Linked DNA regions of Homo sapiens: region 1 is linked to region 2. The links come from fine-mapping of genetic effects on gene expression. A gene starts in region 2. The other region holds a variant in brackets. All regions are shown on one strand. Distances are from middle to middle. Region 1 holds the start of LINC01820 (long intergenic non-protein coding RNA 1820). Region 2 holds the start of EPAS1 (endothelial PAS domain protein 1).

Evidence for each region. PIP is the estimated chance that this variant, and not a neighbour inherited with it, causes the effect.
Region 1: its variant is fine-mapped to the expression of EPAS1 in whole blood (INTERVAL, PIP above 0.99).

The regions. Positions count from the first base shown.
Region 1 is chr2:46,390,065-46,398,988 of GRCh38, reverse strand. LINC01820 (long intergenic non-protein coding RNA 1820) reads left to right here and starts at 4,822. Exons shown (of 3, transcript NR_146999.1): 1 at 4,822-4,971; 2 at 5,644-5,876; 3 at 6,506-6,696. RefSeq lists enhancers at 4,825-5,325, 5,326-5,826. The variant C/G (reference allele first, on the strand shown) is at 4,047.
Region 2 is chr2:46,292,673-46,301,596 of GRCh38, reverse strand. It overlaps EPAS1 (endothelial PAS domain protein 1), which reads right to left and starts at 4,190. Exons shown (of 16, transcript NM_001430.5): 1 at 3,660-4,190. The coding sequence starts at 3,685. RefSeq lists silencers at 3,597-3,926, 4,157-4,736.

The DNA.
Region 1 (8,924 bases), 97 kb before region 2:
CACCTTTCATTTATCATAATGGTTTTGAGATTCATTCATATTGTTGCATGTATTAGTACTCCCATGACTTTATATGGCTGAATAATATTCCATTGTATGTCTACACCTCATCTTGTTTATTCATTTATCAGCTGATGGATGTTTAGGTTGTTTCTACTTTTGGGCTATTATGAATAGTGCTGCTGTAAATATTTGTATATAAGTTTTTATGTGAACATATGTTTTCAGTTCTCTTGAGTATATATCTAGGAGTGAAATTGCAGGTCATATGGCAATTCTGTTTAACTCTTTGAGGAACTGCCAGACCGTTCTCCAAAGGACTTTGCATGCCATTTTACATTTCTACTAGCAATGTATGAGTGTTTCTATTTCTCCACATCTTTAGCAACACTTTTTATTGCCCATCTTTTAAATTTTAGTCAGCATAGTGATGTGTGAAGGGGTATCTTATTGTGGTTTTAATTTGCATGTCTGTAATGACATTGAGTGTCTTTTTGATACATTTAATTGGCCATCTGTATATCTTCTTTGGAGGAATATTTGGAGGAATCTTAAATAGAGTTATTTTCCTTTCAGTTGTTGAGGTGTAAGTGTCCTTTATCCATTCTGGATATTAGTCCCTTAGCAGATATATGATTTGTAACTATTTTCTCCCTTTTATTGCTTGTCTTTTCATTTTCTTGATCCTCATTTACTTTTTTTTCTGCTTGTTCTATCAGTTACTGAGCGAGATGTGTTAAAATCTCCTGTTATGATTATAGATTTTCTAGTTTTCCTTGTGGTAGTATTAATTCCTGAGGCTTATTAGGTACATACAAATACAGAATTATGAAACCTCCCTATTGTATTGACCCTTTTATTATTATGAAAAGTCACTCTTTATTTTGGTTAATGCTTCTTCCTCAAAGTCTACCTATTTGATATTAGTATGCTACACCAGCTTTTTTGGAGGGAGTTGTGTTTGCATGGTTTCTTTTTGTCTTTTCACTGTCTCCTGTCTGTATCCTTATTTATAAGGCATATTTCCTGTAAGCAGTCTTTATATATCTTTTAACCTGGTCTGGTAATATTTGTCATTTAATGGAACTATTAATATTTAACCCCACTCATATTATTTAATTACTGATATATTTGTTTTTTTTGAGACACGGTTCTCTGTCACCCAGGCTGGAGTGCAGTGGCATGATCATGGCTCACTGCAGCCTCAACCTCTGGGTCTCAAGCTATCCTCCCACTTCAGTCTCCCGAGTAGCTGGGGCTACAGGCATGCACCACCATGCCCAGCTAATTTTTTAATTTTTTGTAGAGATAGGGTTTCCCTTGTTGCCCAGACTGGTCTCAAACTCTTGGGCTCAAGCAGTCCTCTTGCCTCAGACTCCCAAAGTGCTGGGATTAGAGGCACGAACTACAGCGCCTGGTCAATGACTGATATATTTAGATTGAAAGCTAGCATCTTACTTGGTTTGTACTTATCCAACCTCCCTGTGTTTCTTTTTCTCTCCTTTCTTGCCTTTTTCTGGAATAATCACGTTTTTTTTTTTTTTTTTTTTTTTTTGAGATTTCATTTCCCCGCTCTATTAGCTTGTCATTGTTACATTATTTTACAGTTCTAATGATCGCTCTAGTAATTACAACATGCATCCTTGATTTATTAGCATCTAATATAAATAATTACATTGACCACTTTCTTTCTTTTTCTTTTTTTTTTTTTTGGAGATGGAGTCTTGCTCTGTTGCCAGGCTGGAGTGCAGTGGTGCGATCTTGGCTCACTGCAATCTCTGACTCCCTGGTTCAAGGGATTCTCCTGCCTTGGCCTTCTGAGTAGCTGAGATTACAGGCGCGTGACACCACACCTGGCTAATTTTTTGTATTTTAGTAAAGACGGGTTTTCACCATGTTGTCCAGGATGGTCTTGATCTCCTGACCTCATGATCCGCCTGCCTCGGCCTCCCAAAGTGCTGGGATTACAGGCGTGAGCCATCGCACCCGTCCACATTGACCACTTTCTAGACAAGGCAAAGACTGAAAGCCACTTAACTCCATGTACTTCTTCTCACCTTTTGTGCCATTGTTTTCACATACGTTCATTCCACATTTATTTTAAACCCTACAATTATTAACAGTCAATATTCACTTAGATTTACTCATTTATCTACCTTTTCTTAGCTTTGTATTCCCTCCTGTGTTTTCCTTGCTCTCATCTGGCATAGTTTGAAAAAACATTTATTTAAGTATAGTTTTAGATTTACAGAAAAATTGCAAAAATCATACAAAGAATTACCATATGCCTCACACCCAGTTTTTCTCTATGATTAACATCTTAGTATAGTACATTCCCTATAATTAATGAACCAATATTGATACATCATTATTAACTAAAGCCCGTATTTTACTCACATTTCCTTAGTTTTTACCTAATGTTCTTTTCTTTATTATAGGATCCTGTTTAAGAAAGCACATTCCACCATCCTGGCTAACACGGTGGAACCCCGTCTCTACTAAAAATACAAAAAATTCGCTGAGCGTGGTGCTGGGCACCTGTAGTCCCAGCTACTCGGGAGGCCGAGGCAGGAGAATGGTTGAACCCAAGAGGTGGAGCTTGCAGTGAGCCGAGATCGTGCCACTGCACTCCAGCCTGGGCGACAGAGTGAGACTCTCTCTCAAAAAAAAAAAAAAAAAACAGAGCACATTTCATTTAATTGTCTCTTTAGGCTGCTCTTGACTGAGACAGTTGCTCAAATTTACTTGTTTTTTAAGACCAGCTCTTGTTCTATTACCCAGGCTGAAGTGCAATGGCATAAACACAGCTCACTGCAGCCTCAACTTCCTAGGTTCAAGCCATTCTCCCACCTCAGCTTCCTGAGTAGCTGGGATTACAGACATGTGCCATCATGCCTGGCTAATTTTTAAATTATTTTTGTAGAGACAGGGTCTTGCCATGTTGCCCAGGCTAGTCTTGAACTCCTGGGCTCAAGTGATCCTCCCACCTTGGCCCCACAAAGTGCTGGGATTACAGGCATGAGCCACATGCCCAGCACTTGTTTTCGATGACCTTGACAGTTTTGAGGAGTTCTAATGAGGTTTTTTTGTAGAATGTTCCTCAGTTGGGATTTGTCTGATTCTCTTTCTCATGATTAGACTGAGATTCCCTAAAGGTTTTTAGGGGGAAGAATCATAGAGGTAAAATATCATTTTTATTATATCATGTCAAGGGTACATACTATTTTTTTTTTTAATGGAGATGGGGTCTTTCTGTGTTTCCCACGCTGGATTTGAACTCCTGGGCTCAAGTGATCCTCCTGCCCCAGCCTGCCAAGTAGCTGGGACTATAGGTGTGTGCCACCATGCCCAGCAAAGGCACATACCATTAACAAGCCCTTCAAAATCTGGATCTACCTCTGAATACGGGTAAGTATGCTAATAGATCATTCCAGGAAATGACCATATGCCCCTGAGAAAGGATGAGAAAGGAGTTGTGGATCCTGTGTTTCTTTAGGGAATCTCAGTCACCCCATCCCTCTGGAGATGTGAGCATCTTGCTGTGCTGAGTATAGTTGTGTTTAAAGATGTGTTTTCTTTACAAGGTGATCTCTAGATATGAGCCAATTATTTCATCTGGTGCTCATCCAAAGAAACCACAATTGTTCTGACACCGGAGGAAAAGCTGACTGCGCTGGAGAAGTGGGGTGTTGGTTTTCAGCGTGGTCACACCTTCCTTAGGGGTTCTCGAGGGGAATTCTGACTTGTGGGGTTTTTTGCTTTCTTCCTAACTTCAGATGTAATGCCACAGTACCTCTCAAAGAGAAACAGTAGTCCATGAAGGCCATGCAGTCTAAATCTCTATTAAGGAAGAAACACATTTTAAAATTTAAATTCACCATAATTTGCACCATTTTTTCGGCTCACAGTTAAGGGGCAGTGCCAGTTCCCCTCTGGTCATCCTGGGTTGCATATGGGCCGTCTATCTTTCACAACCAAGCTTTATCTACACAGAGATGTGAGCGAAGTTTTGCAATCATAGTTTTTCTTTACCTTTTCCTGTTATC[C/G]TTAGCCCATCATGTTCTAAATAGCTTTCTCTGGTGATCAGAGTAAAGGGATTTCTCTGTTATTCTGAGCAAGTAAACACTGAAACATCAGGGAAAGGGTGAAGTTTGTTTCCGAGTGTATTTGCGTTCAGCTGGACTCTGTTTTCCTGCACCTGTAGGCCTGATTCTATCCTGTGGAGCCACCCAAAAAAGTTCTACACCTTCTGCTTTTCCAGATATTTGCAGGTGGGCTTTTGAGCTCCCCCAAACCTTATTTTCTCCAGTACAAACTTCCTCAGCTTTTCTAGTCAGTGTTTGTAACATAGTTGAGAGTCTCCTCACCATTTTAGTCATCCTTCTTTGAATTCATTCCTGTTTATTAAAACCTGGTGCCGAGAGAGGGATATAATATTATCGGGGTGGCTTCCTAGCCCATAGTATTGTGGGATTACCCATTCCTTTTTTCTCCATATTGTTCTTCTATTAATGCATTTTTAGGGTCACATTATTTCTACGATTACTTTATAGGCTAGTACTCATTTATTAATAAGTTATTTTTCAGAAATTCCCATACTCAATATCAAAGGCACTTCCTTGGCAAAGTGACTGTATTTCTCTCTGTCTCGGTTTCTTCATCTCCAAATGGCAATAATTATGATCCTATGAGCTCACAGGACTATTGTGATGAATGAATGAGATACTCTGGTCAAGCTCAGCCTAATAAATAATAAAGTCACTGTGACTGTCTCTACTTTCTGACTGTGAGTACTGCTACAAGTCCACCCCCACCTCTGCTTGTAGAAATAAAAAGTGCAGATTTATGAGAGGGGATGGGTCTACCTGGAGTGACTTGAGGAATACCCAGAAGACCCCGTCCACCTCCTCCTGCTTAGAATATGCCTTTTGCTAGCCTGCTGTGATGCCTGGAATTTCATCCTTCACCCATGTGAGTCATTATTGGACCCAGGAAGTTAAAGATCAATCAGTCTTATCCCCTGCCCCTCCCCCCCCCCCCCCCGCCACCCCCGGAGAGCTACAGATGCCACCCACAGCTGGCTCCTGGAAACTTGAGCAGAGACTGGGTCCTCTACTCTTTTTCAGAAGTTCTCCCATGAGGGTGTGAGTGGCCAGGGAGATGTCCTGAAAGGGATTCTGGGCTCGGAGTGGCTTAGAGGGCAGTTTCCCACGAATTTTCCAATTTTCTTCAGTCAGAAAGTGAGCGACCCATGACCAGTCCCATGCCCCGAGCACAGCCCAGCAGAGCTCAGAGTTGGTCCACAGCATGTAGGGGGGTGGGAATGATGACCATCGCGGCAGAGCCCACGCTGGCCAGCACAGCTGGTGCTCCACATTTTAAGCAGGAGTGGACACACGTACCCAGGATCTCCCAAACCCGTGCAGGCCAACCCACCCCGGTCTGAGTCAGCTTTCTCATCCAGACTTGAGTCTTAGTTAGAGCACTGCCTTAGCCTTTAGTGAGGCCCCCAAAATGATGTCAATGTTCACGCTCAGCTGCCCTCGCCTCAACCAGGCTAATGAGGATGGGGAAAAAGTTCTTTGTTTTAGGCCAAATGGGTCTTCTCTAACTGCAGCTGTTTTCTTTTTTTGTTCCTACAAGTGCTGGGCCCACCCACATAGTTTAAAGCCAAGATCAGGACAGAGATGGAGGGAGCTGTCCCCTGGCCACCCTGATACCTGCTGTTGGAAATCAACAAACAAACACAAACCCACTTTGCGTTCTGTGAGTGTGCATGTATGTTGGTCCCTAGGTGCTGCAGGACAAGAGGAGGGCCAGAAAGCTCTGCCCATGCCTGGGGAGCATGCTGGATCTCCCTTCCAGCTACAGAAGAGGTCAGCACCCTGCCCCCGCTGGCGGTCTTGCTCGAACCTCTGAGAGACCTCTTGGCAACATGCTGTCCCTCCTAATTGTCTTCCTCGGTCACCACTGCAGACCAAGCCTTCCAGGTCATCAGTCACCACGTGGCCCTTGTCCTGGGAGAGTTCTGCACATCCGCTTCCCTTCACCCCTCCTCACCTCCAGACCCTTCCACTGCATTATCGAGAACTCTGTCTCCTAGAGCCTCCCCTCCTCTGAAGGGGCCTTTACCTTCTTTCACTGAAGCCTGGCTGTCCTCAAGCTCCCTGCTCCTTGCAGCCACTCAGGTTGAGGCTGGTTTCTGTCGCCTACAGGCAGGTGTCAGGCAGGGCCTGGACGTAGAGGGGTTACTCATTTCTCCCTCTCAGTCCTCAGACTCTTTTTTTCTTCCCCCAGTGACTTCAGTCCCCAGCTCCTCTCTCCATCCACCTTTACTTTCACGGACGCTGACACCCACCTGGACCACTCTGACAACATCCTGGCTCCCCAACTTCATCAGACCCTTGCCTTCTTTGATTTCAGCCACCTCTGAGATCTGAAAATTTGCTTTTATTTAAAAAATGTCTTAAGTTTACATATGTAAAATTCTTTTTCTGATGTACAGGTCTATGGTTTCTTAGACACGCGTGGATTCTCACAGCCACCACCACAGACAGTACAAGCAACAGTTCCAATACTCCAGAGAACGCCCTCATCTCTCCTCACCCCTGCCTTCTGGCAAGCAATGAGCTGTTCTCTGTTCCTGTATTTTTGCCTTTTCTAGAATGCCATATAAATGGAATTATATAGAATGTGCCCTTTTGGTACTGGCCTCTTTTGTTCAAAAGAATAATACCTTTGAGATTCATCCATGCTGTTGTTTGAATCAAGCATGTTAACTTTTATTGCTGAGTAGTAGTCCATTGTGTAGATATATTACAGTTTTTTAAAAATCTACCCCTGTCGAAGGACATTTGGGTTGTTTTCAGTTCTTGGTGAGGATGAACATTTGTGTGCAGATTTTGTGTGGACTTAAAATCTTGACTTCTTTAAAATACCTAGAAGTGGTCATTGCTGGGTCCTATGTATGTGAGATCTCAACTGTAAGTTTCCTCTCCTCTGACAACTGTGCCCCATCCACATGGTTCCTTTCTCTAACATATCACACTGACCACTGTGACCTCACTAAGACCTCCAATTCACTGAGCCTGCCATTTTTTTCATTGATCATGAACCTATTCATTTTTTCTTTCCTTCTCACACAACTTAGTGATCCATCGTAATAGTCATCCTACTGGAAACTTTCCTCACTCCCTTAAACATACCGTCCTGGCTGAACCACAACCTGGTAAACTCAACTACCCACCCATTCAGTCTCCATTAGAGTAGAACAGTGTGGCTAGAAGAAAACACAATTGTGCCATGGGCCAGTTCATGACCATAAATCTCACCTGAGCTTCTGATACTGATCATCGATCAGTCTGACCTTCTAGTGACTATTTCATACTTGTATCTCTTCAAACCTCTGACAGCCTCATATATCACTGGGGAAATAGCGATCAGACTAGAGATTGCTTATTATCCTCCCACCACCAATTCCACCTGACGGACTAAGGCTTTACTCTCTTCTCTGCCTTCCCCCTTTTAAAACGATGAACTGTCCATGCTTCTGTCTGAAGCCAGCCCCTCGATGGTGCAGTGGATTCCATCCGTGCCCATCCCACCTTTTCAATCATTTTACTTCTGCAATTATCCCCCCCTTTCCTGTCTTCATCAACTTTCTGCCATCACCGTATATACGTTTCCTAATGTAGCTCATCTTCAAAAATGATGTCCCTCCTGGCTCCCCAAAACCAGTAACTTTACAGTGGAGAGACCTGACAAAACACCTCAGCCAGGTGATCAAGGCAACGAGTCATGACGGCGGAATGTACCCTTGCTGTGATGTGAGGAGGTGATAATGGCACTGTACCTCTTTGGTCTTCCTTTCCAAAACCCACAACCTCTGTCCAACCAGAAAAACACCAGACAAATCCAAATGGAAGGATGTTCTACAAAATACTTAACTAGCACTCCTCAGAATTGTCAAGGCCGTCAAAAGTGGGGAAAACCTAAGAGAAGCCTAAGGAGACGTGACAAGTAAATGTAATGTGGTATCCTGAATAGGACCTTAGAACAGAAAAAGAAAGATATTAAGTAACACTAAAAACTGGAATAAAGTACAGGCTTTAGATAATAAGGTACCAATACTGGTTCATTAATTGTGACTTATGTACCATAGTAATGTTAACAATAGAGGAGGCCAGGCACGGTGGCTCACGTCTATATTCCTACCGCTTTGGGAGGCCGAGGCAGGAGGATCACTTGAGCCCACGAGTTTGAGACCAGCCTGGGCAACATAGGGAAACCCCGTCTCTATTCTAAAAATAAAATAAAATAATAGAGGAAACTGAGTGCAGGGAACTCTTATAATGGTCTCACAGCCTTTCTGTAAACCTAAAACTATTCTAAGATAAAAGTCGATTAAATATGAAACCACACACACACACACATACACACACACACACATATACACTCCCACACACTCCCCTGACCCATGTCATCCTCTTGCTCCACTCCATTTCCCTGCTTTCCTGCACAGGGAACCTTCCCAAACGAGTTGTATATTGCTACGGTCTCTGTTTCCCCACTCCAGCCAGCTCATTCCTCAGTCTACTCCAATCTGCTGTCCTTAGCTCCCCACCAAACCTGCTCTTGTTAAGGTTGATGGTGAGCTCCATGTTGGCAAATCCGAGTCAATTTTTTTCCCCTTCCCTTACCTTTCAGTCTAGTGTGTGTGTAATGCAGTTCACTATGCCCTACTTCCCGCAGCACCCTTATCACTTGGCTTTTGAGATACTATACCCCTGGATTTCTTTCTGCTCCTTGGGTGCTCCTGCTCAGTCTGGCTTCTACCAGTGGCCTAGGTTCTGTCTCCCGACCTCTGTTCTTTGCACTTCTATCTCAGAGGCATATTTCATCCCAGCTCATGGAGTTAAGTACAA
Region 2 (8,924 bases):
TTTTTTTTTTTTTTTTTTCTTTGAGACGGAATTTCACTCTTGCCCAGGCTGGAGTGCAGCAGCGCTATCTCCGCTCACTGCAGCCTCTACCTCCCGGGTTCAAGCAATTCTCCTGCCTCAGCCTCCAGAATAGCTGGGATTACAGGCACCCACCACCACGCCCGGCTAATTTTTTTGTGTTTTTAATAGAGACGGGGTTTCACCATGTTGACCAGGCTGGTCTTGAACTCCTGACCTCAGGTGATCCGCAGCCTCAGCCTCCCAAAGTGCTGGGATTACAGGCATGAGCCACCGCGACCAGCCCTGACTCTTATCAGCACTAATTTTCCTTGTGACCGGAGAAGTCTTTTAACCTCTCTCGGCATCAGTTTCCTTATCCAGAAAGAGAAAAGTCTGACTAGATGATTTCCATGGTCTCTTATAAAATAATTCTAGGCTCCCTATAAGCACCACTGAAAAAAACTTGAAATGATGGCATTCTTTTGAACTTCATGAAAACTGTATGAATTAAAACTTAAATACTCAAGCCAACAATGTGTTACATCAATTCTGTATCATCCTGCGCTGCTGGTAATACAATGGAAACATATCAAGTGTGGAGGGAATATTTATTTAAAATATATGTTTAAATTGAGAGAAACTGTCCAGCAATATTTTTTCCCTTCAGAGTTGGAATAATGATGGAGTTTGATTTGATTTTAGAAGAGGAACAACTAAGTCCAGCTGTCAGAAGGAGGGGGAGATTGGAGATCCAGGTGTCTCCAATTCCCCTTCCACGCTAGCCCTGTACTGAGCACTACTGTATAAGCACTCTGGGAAGGTGTCTGGACCTAGGTCTGGCTTTGGGACTGGACTTTGATCCCTGATTATCCAAGGATCTCATTTACATTTGCCTGAACCACTCCTCAAACCCCGTGAATCCCAGAATTTCCACATTTTTTTCCCAGTGAAAGGACTCAGGCATTCCTGATAGATGCGTGCACAAAAAGGTGAGTGAAAGTGCAGTACCCCCACCCACCAGGCTTCAGTTTCTGACATCTGTGATGTCACCGCAAATGCCCACTACCACCAAAACTGGTACTATCAAGGACACCCAGCCAACTAACATTTAGAAAGCAAACTCTTTATTATTAAACATTAACATATTTATCGACGTGTGAACATTCTGGGACAAAATCATCTGCCCACTTCTTGACGGGCCATTGTTAGAACGAATATTCCAAATGTTCTGCCCATATTGCATTTGGGGGAAGAAACTGCTCTGCTAAACCAAAGAAACACAAAATGTAAGAACTAGTGGGCAGAATCATCAGCAGAGAGCCCCCTCACTGTCACATCGCCCTTGTGAGGCACTCAGAAAAGCTACAGCAGTCACTTACATGACAACACCAACTTTCAATGTATTGGTTCACATATTTTAATTACATCTTGGTCCCTAAAGAAGCCTGCAGCCAGCAAACAGACCCAGGCACGAAAAGTAAATGAGTCTCAAACTGATTAGCCCAATAGGAATTGGACAACCCCTTAAGGGGCTCTAGATGGTGAAGGACACGCTGTTTGCCCTGCCATTCTGCAGCACAAAAATCCAGGCAGGTCGAAGAGGGCGGACACCCTCGCGTGGCCACCAGCCCGGAGCCGCAGCTCACACAGCGGCCTCCAAGGCGTTTCGCAGGCAGTCCCCACAGTGGTTCTTAAAGCGGCCGCTCTCGCCAATAATTGGGAGTCTAATTACGCAACGTTCTTCCCGCTCCCATTCCCGCTTCTTCTCTCTTTCCAACAGTCCGCTAACGAACCAGGTACTGTAGCTGGGTGTGTCGAAATCATTTTTCCCCTGCTCCCAAGTTTCTCGGTATATACGGTACAAAACTGCACAAAACCCGGCGCTAAGGAGCGCAGGAGGAGCTGACACTTCACACATTTGTCAAGATTACTGTCAGGCCCCACCTCGGCGATTGCCACATTCCCGATAGGCATCGCAGTTGTAAAATACACAAGTTCCCTCCCCGGCTCCGGACCCGAAAGCGTCTGCAGGCGCTGTCTATAACTTTGCTTTTCGATGGTTCAGTCATTATTAGCATTATGATTGGTTTTTACAAAACGCACTGGAATCTTAAGAGTCTTTTCCTTGCTCTGCTGCCTTCAAAAGACATGGAACCCCAGGACTGCTCCGAGGGCCCTGGGAATGTGCCGGCTGCAGTCTCAGGGCTCCCTCACTTGTCTTGGGTCTGAGGGCGCGACGGTGACGAGAAAGGGGGGACTACGGCCAGGAAAGGGGAGCAGGGCCCAATCCCCTCCCCTAGCGATCCCGCAGTGAAGGGCCCGGGCGCCGAGCCAGGACAGGCGCGATTCGCTCCCGTTTATCAAATCCTTATCGGTGCCCCGAGGTGGGAACCGCTGCTTTCGACCGGAGGATACACGGTTTCTGGCTCCAGTCCCGTAGTGGAAGTTGGAACAAGAGCAAATCAACCTCGGCAGTGAGCCCTCCCGGCCAGTCACCTCCCTCCCTTAGCGAGTCGGTCCTCCTCATCCTCGCACCTCTATACCGCCGCTCCGCCGCTGGTTTCCCGCGGCTCAGGCGGTTCAGCCGGCCGCGCGTTGGATTCCAGCTTCCCGCAGCATAGCCTCGCCAAGCCGCGGCCAAGCGCGGGGCTGGAAGCTCCAGGCCACTGGGGCCGCACGGGTGGAGACAGGAGGAGAAAGGGGACAGGCGGCGAGCCGCACACATTTGCAGAAGTTGAGGCCCTGCCTGCTTCTGCGCGGCCGCGCAGAGGGCTCGAACCCTCGCTCGGGTAGCGCCGGGCCCGGCTGGACTGGGAGCGGCCGGGAGAGGGCGAGAGGGCAGCAAGAAATGGCCAGAGTTGCCTCTCACCCAGTGCCGAGAGGCTCGCGAGGGCAGGCGGGCAGATCGTGGCTGCCCTTCTCTGTCCTCTTCGGAGACAGACACCCGGACCTGCCAGGGACATCCAGTGTTGCCGTCCGCTTCCTACACACCGAACCATCTGCCCCCGCAGGGCAATCCAGGTCACTCACTACCTACTCTCCCCAGAGTCAAGGTGCGGCACGAGGAAGTGGGTTCTCCAACCTTCGGTGGGGTCTGGAGCCCGGCAGCGGGGCGCTCTGAAGGGTCCTGGCTCCTCGGTAGGATCGTGTCCCTGAGCCGCTCTCCGCCTCCCGCCCCCCTTTGCCCACTTGGGCCGCGGCGCGGGCACAGGAGCGCATTTGGAAGGACTCCGCGAATCCAGAGAAAAATAGAGACGTGGATGCTGCCCCAAAATGAGAGACCAGAGAAAGTCGAGGACATGCACCCACAAACATTTCCAAGCGCCGGTGGCCACGGTAATCTGCTGCGGGGCGGCTGGGAGATTTTCAAAGGCACCGCGGAAGCACCTCCGACCTCCAGGCCATCTCCCTCGGCCTCCTGGCCTCGCCGTGCGCGCAAATCCCCGACTCCTCCGAGCCGCAGAAGTCTCCACTGCAAAGCTGCTGATCCGCGCCCCCAAACCGGGCACATGCTCTCCCCCTCACAGCCCTCCAAACCGAGCCTCGAGCTCCGAAGACCTCTCAGCACTCTTCTCCCAACCACTCTCGGTCGCGCCTGCCCCGCGCAGCCCGGCCCTGGCCTCGGACCGGCCCCCTGATCGGCCCGGACGCCCGCTTACCTTTTCTTCTCCTTGTCAGCTGTCATTGTCGCTGTGGCCCTTTGAGACGTTCAGACGCCGAGCACCTGGGCTCCCTGGCGGGTGGGGGGCTGTGGCCCTCGTCCGCTCCCCGCGGCCCGGGCGGGTGGTGAAGGTCCGAGGTGCGCGCAGGTCCCGAGCGCCCCGCGCAGTCAGGTGGAAGGTGGCGCGCGGCGGGCTAGGTGCGGGGGCGGGGGTGGAGAAAGGTGACTGGGAGGAACCTGCGCGCGGAGGCGGGGTCCGGGGAAGGAGTGGGTGGAGGCTGTCAGACCCGAAAAGAGGACGGAGAGAAGGGAACCCAAGTTCCTTTTTCCCTGGAAAAGGAGTCACTTTTCTGAGTTTTCAAAGAAAAAAAAAAGTGGCTCGAATGCTGGGAGTCGGAAGGAGTCGGAGGCCGGGCTGAGCTGACCATACAGTCTCAGGACACTGCCGAGGATTGTACGGCCGCCTCAGGAGCGCTGGGGCGGAAGCGCAGCGGGCACCGGACCCGTGTGGCGGTCCGCTCGCGAGTGTAAAGCTCCCGCGGCCGGCAGCCCACTTTAAAAACTCCGTCGGCCGGCTTGGGGCGGGCACGGGGCGGGCGCGGAGGGCGGGGGGCGGGCACCGGCGCGGGTGTGTGGGCGGGCACGCGCCGGCAGGCCCCGCCCGCGCCGAGCTCCGGGCGGCTCACTGCGTCCCGGCCAATGGGGACGCGCGGCCGCAGCCTCTGCCCTGACCCTGGCCCGCCTCCTGCCCCCGCGCTGCGCCCCGCCTCCTGCCTCCGCACTTCGAGGACTTGTTTATGAGGTCGTCTGGGCGGCGGGTAGCGGGGTGGGACTCCGCGTCGGGGAGAGGCAGCCTGCGCAGGGCCGAGGGGCGGCCGGGAGCCGGGCTCCGGGATTGCTGCGGGGGACGGCAGTTGCGCCACAGCGTCGGTGTCCTCGTACCGGCGCCGTGCCCTTGGAACGAGGGCAGGACCGCGGGCAGCGCCGGGCCAGCGCGGAGCCCCTCCACGCTGCTGCGCTCCTGCGTCCCTGGCCCTCGGGCCAGGTGGGGATAATTTCTCGGCCCCCAGCGGCTGCGTTTCGGGCGTGGGCGATGCGCCCTTTTCGGTGGGACGCAGCTGACTTGACCGTCTGGGAGAAGCAGTGCAAGGAAATTGATCTAGGGCTGCGCCTACTCTTCCTTCCCTCTCCCAGCAGGGTGGTTGCTTACCGGCTTGTGCCAGGCGGTTTGGTTTTGGCGGGGATGCGGCAGAGGAGGCCCTTTGAGCCGCCCGAGGCCGGGGCGAGTTCAGAATTGGAGAAGTCAGTCTGGTTCCCCAGTGTGATCTTGGAGTGACAAGAGTTGGCCATGTGCCCTCAAGTCACTGCATCTCAGGCCTGCCCTCTCTGCCGCCAGGGTCGATGGAAGTCCTGGGAAACCCAAAGGCTACAGGTGTTGGAAATTTGTAGATTTAAGGGCTCACACAGGCAACGGTTAGCGCTCAGGGATTTTCCAGCGGCGCTTTTGACGCTGCCTTCCATCTCCGGGCCCAGTGCTCCCCTGCCCCGCGCTGAGCTGTCTCCCACTCGCTACCGGCGATGGGGAAGGGACATCTGGGGAGAGGACAGGGGACGCCCTTAGTTTTTGAAGGCTGTGGAAGGACCCATGAGTTTCACAGGTGTAACTTGAAGTTGGAAAGCGAGGGCCAAAGAACTGGTCTATATCTCTCCCTTTAGCCTCTTGCCACATTTTATACTAGAACGATCTACAGAAGCGATTTGAAGAGAAGGGTAGGTTTCAGCGCCATAATAAAAATGAACACGTGTTTTCCCCGTGTACACAGAAAGGGTTGGGGGAGATACTTTTCAGGAGCCTGGAGAAGGCGAAGTGGGGAGAGGGCAAAAACTGACGAAGAATTGGGAAATACTTTTTTTTTTTTTTTGAGACTGAGTCCCACTCTGTCGCCCAGGCTGGAGTGCTGTGGCCCCATCTCGACTCACTGCAACCTCCGCTTCCCGCGATTCTTGTGGCTCAGCCTCCGGAGTAACTGGAATTAAAGGCGCCCACCACCACCCTCAGCTAATTTTTGTATTTTTAGTAGAGACGGGAGTTTTACCATGTTGGCCAGGCTGGTCTCAAACTCCTGACCTCAAGTGATCTGCCCAACTTGGCCTCTCAAAGTATTGGGATTACAGGCGTGAGTCACTGTGCCCGGCCGGGAAGTAGACGTATTTTGTCATTTTCTCAGATCTCGGGGCACGGAGCACCTATACAGGTTGATAGTCAACGAATTCAAAGATTGCAAATCTCTCTCTAGCGAACTATTTCATGGGGCTGGTGGGTTTCAGGAACGGGGTGATTTGGTACTGGGCTTCTCCAGCCAGCCATTTCTAGTGGACACATTTATGTATTTTAATGAGTTCAAATTGGTAGATAGTTCTCCCTTAACCATAGGCTTATTTCCCTCACTTGGGACTAGAGTGCGGGAAAAGGGCACCTTGGTGGCTTCCAGGTGCCTACAGTAGTTCACCACAACAGCCTCTGAGTCCTGGACTGTGCTTGACAGATCGAGGCAACACCTCCAACCCATAGAGAACATAGCCTTTTAGATCTTGTTTTTAAAGAGGAAAGGCAAGGAGGGGTCACTCAAGACCACATCAACCTAAGAAGACATGGACACATGGGAGGAACAGCACAGACTGGGGCGTGTCAGAGGGTGAGGGGTGGGAGGAGGGAGAGCATCAGGAACAATAGCTAACGGATGCTGGGCTTAATACCTAGGTGATGGGATGATCTGTGCAGTGGACCACCATGGTACACATTTACCTATGTAACAAACCTGCACATCCTGCACATGTACCCCTGAGCTTAAATGTTAGAAATTCCATCAACCATGTTATATAGCTCCTTCCTCTTGGCCAGACTGCACCCTATAAGTGAAGGATCCCCAGGCTAACACAAACAGCTGGCATTGAGTCTGGGATTTTTTTTTTTTCTTTAGACAATCTCACTCTGTTGCGCAGGTTGGAGCGGAGTGGCACGATCTTGGCGCACTGCAACCTCCACGTCCCGGGTTCAAGCTATTCCCCTGCCTCAGCCTCCCAAGTAGCTAGGACTACAGATGTGCACCACCATGCCCGGCTAATTTTTGTATTTTTAGTAGAGATGGAGTTTTGCCATGTTGGCCAGGCTGGTCTGGAACTCCTGGCCTCATGTGATCCACCCACCTGGGCTTCCCAGAGTGCTGGGATTATACGCATAAGCCACCGCACCTTGCCAAGTCCGGGATTTTGGCAGTGTCTGAGATACACCAAAAACTCATTATAATAACTCTCAAAAGGGTTGCACCCAGCCTTGCTTAGAGCAGAGCCGGGTGGCCTGAGATTTCTTCCAGGACTCAGCTCAATAACCTTTGCAGGAAGGAGCTGAGAGTGTAAACCAGATGCAGGCTGTGGCTAGGGTGCATCCAATTTTACTTTTTAGAGCCTGTGGAGAACTAGAGGAGAAAAACTTTGAAAGGTGATGCTGGGGCAGTGAGTGGGGGATGGGGAGCTGGGTCCCCGGATTCAGAGGGGTGTCTTTAGAGACACTGATGTTGTGGCCACAGAGGGCAGCAGAGGACACCGGTAGGCAAAGCTCCCAAGCTGCTTAAAATAGGAGCAAACTGCCCACCTCCCAGCAAATCTCCCTACCTGCCCCCCAACCCTGTATTGGATGGTTTGGGAACAAAAGCTGTGGCACCAGTGAAACACCTATTTGTTTTGACAAGGGACAAATCTGATTCTCTTGCTTCCTCTTTTCTTTGTAGGGTGTGCCCTCAGGAGGATGGGATAGAGATAAAGTGTGAACTTACAAACCTGGCAGAGAGCAGGCACCTGGGATGCAGTGGGCTGGTGGAAGAAAGATGGCCTCAGTACTCCCATCGAAGTAACAGTATGTTCCAGGATGCAGTTGGAAATTAGGTTGGAATGGATGGGATCTAACAGGAACAGCTCTTGGAAGGATGGGCTATCTCATTAGTACCTTACAACTTCCAATGCATTGTCACATATTGGAGTTGGGACCAGGGTGAGGCAAAAGAGGCCTTTAAGAGTCATGCAAGTACACTGGCCTCTGTCCTGCCACATGCCTTATCTCACGTAATACCCATCTGACCCTTGTCTGGCTATTTAGTTGGTTTCGGGGTGGAGAGAGCAGGGGAGGTAAGGAGCAGAGATGGGAGAGAGGACAAGCTGGCAGAGACTCTTTCTCTATGAAAAGCCTTGCCTGAGTCACTCCTTCCCTCACACTTGCATGTTACTCCATCCAAACGAAACCAGCCCCTTTTGTGACTTCACAAAATCTATACTCACACTCCCTGTCACTGAACTCCAGGTCCAGAAAACTATGCCCCCTGTGTTTGGCTTTAGGCCAATGTCGTGAGATATTCCACACAGACATGTGCTGTATCTTCTTTTAAATGTTGTGACTTTTGACCCCACAAATCTAGAATTTGTCATCTTTCAAAAAGAGTTCTGTGATTTCTTTTTTTTTTTTTTTTTTTTTTTGAGGCAAGAGTCAAACTTTTTTTCCTCCTTGAATTCCTAAGTGCTTGCTGGTAAGAAGGATGCAGTTTTAAAGAACCCCAGCTTCTCCATTCCTCACACCTGTATACTGATGACTTGGAGACTAACATCTTCCATTGCTAGGCTTAGGAATGAAGTTTTGCCTCTGAAGGGAGTTGTGCATTTGTAACTGTCATTCAACCAATGGTGAAAGAGTCACTGGTCCAGGGCCAATGTGCTCTGCTGCCTCCGGGAAAGCATAAGACATCAGTCTGTGGAAGAGGGCACTGGTGGTTTCCTTCCCTCCAAGAGGACATAGTTCAGTTGGGTACATACTGCATTTCCCAGATTTTGAATACACACGTTTTAAGGCTTCCAAAATCAGGTATCTTTTGACATGGTAATTCCTTTTCCTCCCCCAATTTTTAATTTGGTAAATATGTACAATTTATATGCTCTTAACATTTTTAAATTTGAAAATCGAGAGCAAAATCTTATAGCCTAAACAACAGGAGTGGTAAGAATTTGGTGGTGGTGAACAACCAGAAAATCTGGAGTCCCAGCCATGTCCACTGCTAGGACCCAGAGAAGCCTAGCCTGGACTGGCCCAGCTGCCGGGCTGATGAGTGTGACCTCTGAGGTGATAAAATAACACCCATGTGGGAGGAATGGCCAATAAGAAGGACATGCCAGCCCCACCTTAGAAAAAGGCATGAGTAGAAATGAAGGTGCTATATCA